Regions from separate parts of the Homo sapiens genome. Here region 2 is linked to region 1. Evidence: fine-mapped expression QTL. A gene starts in region 1. The other region holds a variant in brackets. All regions are shown on one strand. Distances are from middle to middle.

Region 1 (2,797 bases):
TAGCCCTGAAAAACGTATCTGTGGGCCGGGCATGGTGGCTCATGCATGTAATCCCAGCACTTTGGGAGGTCGAGGTGGGCGGATCGCTTGAGGCCAGGAGTTGAAGACCAGCCTGGCAAATATGGTGAAACCCAGTCTCTACTAAAATACAAAAATCAGTCAGGTGTGGTAGTGCATGCCTGTAATCCCAACTACTCGGCAGGCTGGGGCAGGAGAATTGCTTGAACCTGGGAGGCAGAGACTGCAGTGAGCTGAGAGTGCACCACTGTACTCCAGCCTGGGCGACAGAGTGAGACCCTGTCTCAAAACAAAAAAAAGTATGTGAACACGGGCACAAAAAGCTCAGCATTCCTCACTGACCCCACAGAGCGGCACTGGAAGGGCTGCATCTACTTGGGGAACGACAGGCTCCAGACCAGCTTCCCATGCCCTCTGGGATCTCCCTGGGTCTCCCAGATCCCCCAAGGAAATTCCACAATGAACCAACCATCGGCCTCTTTCCTTACTGGGTTCCGACAGAACTTGTCTCTGACGCCAGGATACTTTGGGGCCACGGAACACGAGCGGCCAAGGATAATGCAGGCTGTAGCGATGAGAGTAAGGGCATCTGACTGGCCACAATGTCTGCAGTAGTTGCGGATGGCTAGAACATCCAGGAAAAGACCACACACTGTTGCCCTCCACGTCTCAGCGGCCGCAGGAAAACCATGGCAACCTTACACACCCTCCTGAGCCTCCTTAAACATACAACATACCTTGTCTCTGCTCGCGCATTTGTCGGCTTGCTACTGCCCTGCCCTCCCCTTCCCCCCTCAGGCCCCCAATTCATGCTGGAATGAGACCTGGTCCACCAGAGAATGCTTGCAGGCCAAGGATGATGGGAGTCCCCAGAGGAAGCATCATTCACTCAACAACCTACGGAGCTCCTTCCAGTAGGCCCAACACTCCTTACGGCCAGGTATAAATTAAGTGGCAAACCAGCTCCACACACCAAAGCGAACGACGACTGCGAAGACAAATCCAGGGGATACCTGGGCTCCCACCCACTTCGGAAACCGCCTCAGCGCTGGCAAGGAAGCGGCAACCGCGAAGCCACCGTCCACTCACCTGGGCCCGGTCCGTCAGCACCGCTGCCGCCATCACGTCACCCCCTGGGCCGCAGAGCTGGGACAGAGGAGCCCCGGGCGGCCTGACGGACCCCACCTGTGCCCGACCCTGGCCGGTTGCCCGGGGCTTCCAGGCGCGCTCGGGGCCGCCGCCTCCTCGGTGGCAACGGCGTTCCAGACGCAGGGCCGCCGCCTCCTCGGTGGCAACCGCGTTCCAGACCCAGGGCGCCGCCCCTGGAGACCGCGGGGCTGAAGGGCGGGGGAGGAGAGACCGCAGCTTGACGGCGACCCAGGAACAAACCCACGGAAGGGGTCAGGCTCGTACAAAGGTGCGGCGGGGATTCCTATCCTACTCCCCTGCTCGGTCCTGACTAGGGACCTGCAAAGCGGCCCCGACCGGGGCCCTCAGTGGCTACAGACCTCTCCAGACAGAAGTGCAGAAGAAAATGGCGTCCGCAGCGAGCAACCCGGAAGTCCCGCCCCCACCGGCGTGAGCCGTCGGAAACGTCCCCGTCCTAGGCCGTCGTTGGCCCAGCTCCCGCCGTACGCATAATGCACAGCCTTCTAAGTAGTGTAGTTTTCCTCATGTGTTCAACAACGGGAGGAACGCTTCACGGCGCAAGTTTTCCTCCCAGGGAAAGGCACTCCAGGACCCGAGGAGACGCTCCAGACCCACCTCTTTACGGTGGGCACAACTCGAGGGGAAGGATGGAGGGAGGGAACCGAGGGGCAAGGGTTACATTGCATTCTTCTCTCGGGAAAATCGGAGCTCGGGAGACAGGGACTTTCCTTCAGGTCAGGGCACAGGCAAAGGCGCAGAACTGGGTCCTCAGCTCGCCTGGCGACTGACCCCCTTTCACATCCCTCCTCCCCGGATCATCATCTTGGAAGACACAAAAAAGCCGAATGATCATCTGGAAGCCCTGCCCCGACACGTTGTGTGCGCAAACTGCCCTCTTTTGAGCCTTCTTTGGACCAGCACAGCCTCTACGTGATGCAGGGAGTCATGTATTTGGCCCAGACCACACAAAAAGTGGATTTGCCCACTTCTGAGGTGGGGAGGCTGCAAGTGGAGGAGGTTCGGAGGCTCAGGATGGTTAGTTTGAAATGTCTACAGAACCACAAAGTATCTCTGTCACAGGCAATTCGACTTACGACTGAATGTTGGAAGAAGGTTTGAGCATGAATATATGAATTTAGGAGTTACCTTACACTGTTATTTCAAGTCATGATATTGAGTGAGACCATCAAGGCAATGCATGTAGATGGAGAAGAAAATACACAGAGCATGAGCCGGGGACCAAGTCTACATCATTAAATGGTTGATGACAATATTACCAGAAAGGCCAGGTCCTTGCATCTAGATCCTGCTGCTTGCTGCACAGAAGGCCAGTCAGCAAGACAATGAGTATTGTCAGGGATGAAGGCTTTATTCGGTGCTGCAGCTGAGGAAAATGGGAGATCAATCTCAAATCTCTTTCCTCAACTGACTAAAACTAGGGGTTTATACATCAGGGAAGAAGTGTAACTATGTTTGAGAAAACAGGAATTAGGAAGGGGTAAGGAAGAGGAATGGGTCAACAGGCAGCAGATGGTCAGTTAGGCAATCATCATGGGTAAGGGGTATAGCATCTCGTTTTTCCAGATGTGGTAATCCAGTAAGTTTCAGTTTCTTTATACTATCTGGGAGG
Region 2 (2,797 bases), 35 kb before region 1:
TAATTTATGCTAACAATATGATTCATGGTGGATGCTGGCTTTTGCATGCATGAGGCCCTGGGCCATGCTATATGTTTGTTTTCTGCAAGGGTTGTAGACTGGATATTTATGGTTATTCATGTGGGTTCTGCATTCCTACCTCAATGACCCTTAACGAAAACTCTAGACGTCAAGGCTTGGGGGAGCTTCCCTGGCTGGCAATACTGTGAATGTGTTGCACACAACTTTGCTGGGAGAATTCAGTGTGCCCTTGTGCAACTGCACTGGGAGGGAACACCTGCTAAGTTTGTGCCTGTGCTGGACACAGTGGCTTCCACCCGTAATCCCAGCACTTTGGGAGGCCAAGGCGGGTGGATCACTTGAAGTCAGGAGTTCCAGACTGGCCTGGCCAACATGGTGTAACCCCATCTCTGCTAAAAACACAAAAATCAGCCAGTGTGGTGGCACATGCCTGTAATCCCAGCTACTTGGGAGGCTGAGGCAGAGGATCACCTGAACCTGGGAGGCAGAGGTTGCAGTGAGCCGAGATTGTGCCATTGCACTCCAGCCTGGGTGACACAGCGAGACTCCATCTCAAAAAAAAAAAAAAAAAAAAAGAAAAAGAAAAAAGAAAAAAAATTGTGCCTGGTTTCTCACAGATTTCCTCCTATGTGCCTTTTACCTTTGGTGATCTTGGTCTCTATCCTTTTGTGGTAATAAACTGTAACCATGAGTACAACAGCTTTTCTGAGTTGTGTGTGACTTTCTTTTCTGAATTTTGACTTTCAGGCAAATCATCGAGCCTGAGGTGGTACTGGGGAGAGAATGTCACATAACCTAAAATGTCAAAAATGATTAAGGCTCATTCACCTAACAAATATCTGAATACATACTATTGACTACAAACTATGCACATGGAACATTAGGAGAAAATCTAGATCAAGGTCTGTGCTTTTTCGAAGCTGGAAATTGAGTTCAGGATACGGTCATTATTCAATAACCAAACAAATCAATAGATAATCATGAAAGAATGGGTATGAGCTAGCTGGGTGCTCTAGTGGGCTTCTGTGAAGGTGTGCTCTCTGGGACAAAATGAAGGATACACATTTGCTAACTGGGCAAAGCAGGTGGTGGAAGCTCCATCTCGAGTGGGAAAAGGAAAGGGAAGCATGGAGTGAAAGGAGAGCAGTAAGACTTGTATGAGATGAGGGTTGGGGAAATACGTTTTAGGGTATGTTCACTAAAGTAGGTAGCTGAACCCAAGAGTGCAGATGAGGCCTGGGGAGAGACCAGTAAGAGAAAAAAGAGGCCTGGGACAAAGCCTTAGAAATTTCAACACCGGTCAGGCACGGTGGCTCATGCCTGTAAGCCCAGCCCTTTAGGAGGCCAAGGCAGGCGGATCACCTGAGGTCAGGAGTTAAAGACCAGCCTGGCCAACATGGTGAAACCCCGTCTCTACAAAAATACAAAAATTAGCCGGGCATAATGGCAGATGCCTGTAATGCCAGCTACTCAGGGGGCAGAGGCGGGAGAATCACTTGAACC[T/C]GGGAGGCGGAGGATGCAGTGAGCCGAGATCATGCCATTGCACTTCAGCCCGGAGACAGAGCAAGACTCTGTCTCAAAGAGAAAAAAAAAAGAAAAAAAATTCAACACCAAATGGCTGGATACACGTGGATGCACCAACATGAAAGGGGAAAAGGAGTGAGAGGGTGCAGGGGAGAAAACCAGAAGCATAACCTTACAGAATCCAAGAGTACATCTGGAGAAAGGACTGGACAACAACAGTTTCAAGTCCTGTCCATAGCCCAGAAAAGACAAGGACTTAGGATTCATAAACAGGGAGCCACTGCTGACCTTCACCAGAGTGGTAAAAAGCGTGGTGCTGTAGCCGGGGAGTTTACAAGGAGAGGGGAGTTGCGGGACGTGGAGAGAAATAACACAAGGAAGAGGTAATGGGAGCGTGACATGAGCCCCAAGAGGCTCCTCCATTAGAGGAAGAGAGTGAGGAAAAGACAAAGAACTCAAAGCTGGAGAAGCCCATACAGACATAGGGACATATGGAAGATCAGACTGGTGATGTCTGATACTCAAGAAGTGTGAGGATAATTCAGAAAGGGTTTGAAAATGACAAAAGAACATGCAGATGAAGACCAGGCACGGTGGCTCATGCCTGTAACCCCAGCACTTTGGGGGCCAGGGGAGGAGGACTGCTTGAGCCCAGGAGTTTGAAACCAGCCTGGGCAACACAGGGAGACCCCCATCTCTACAAAAAATTTAAAAATTAGCTGGGCATAGTGATGTGCACCTGTAGTCTCAGATACTTGGGAGGCTGAGCCTGCAGTGAGCCATGATCAGAAGACCCTATTTTTTTTTTGTTTTTTGTTTTTTGAGATGGAGTTTCACTCTTGTTGCCCAGGCTGGAGTGCAATGGCGCAATCTTGGTTCACCGCAGCCTCTACCTCCCGGGTTCAAGCATTTCTCCTGCCTCAGCCTCCCGAGTAGCTGGGATTACAGGCATGCACCACCACACTCAGCTAATTTTTTGTATTTTTAGTAGAGACGGGGTTTCTCCATGTTGGCAAGGCTGGTCTCAAACTCCTAATCTCAAGTGATCCACCTGCCTCGACCTCCCAAAGTGCTGGGATTACAGGTGTGAGCCACCGCGCCCAGCCTAAGATCCTATGTCAAACACACACACACACACACACACACACACAGCAAAAGAACATGCAGATGGAAAATAGGCTTGTAGGTGGCTGAAATGACATGTATGCCAAAAGTCAAGAAACTGAGATGAAAAAAGATTACTGTCACTGCT

The links. PIP is the estimated chance that this variant, and not a neighbour inherited with it, causes the effect.
Region 2: its variant is the best candidate, but not a certain one, in a credible set for the expression of ZNF264 in whole blood (TOPMed, PIP 0.50).

Annotation. Positions count from the first base shown.
Region 1 is chr19:57,190,257-57,193,053 of GRCh38, reverse strand. ZNF264 (zinc finger protein 264) reads right to left here and starts at 1,554. Exons shown (of 4, transcript NM_003417.5): 1 at 1,108-1,554. The coding sequence starts at 1,140. RefSeq lists a silencer at 1,039-1,308 and enhancers at 1,479-1,538, 1,549-1,638, 1,659-1,718.
Region 2 is chr19:57,225,090-57,227,886 of GRCh38, reverse strand. No RefSeq gene overlaps it. Among named protein-coding and RNA genes, the nearest start is that of AURKC, 4.5 kb to the left of the region's middle. The variant T/C (reference allele first, on the strand shown) is at 1,525.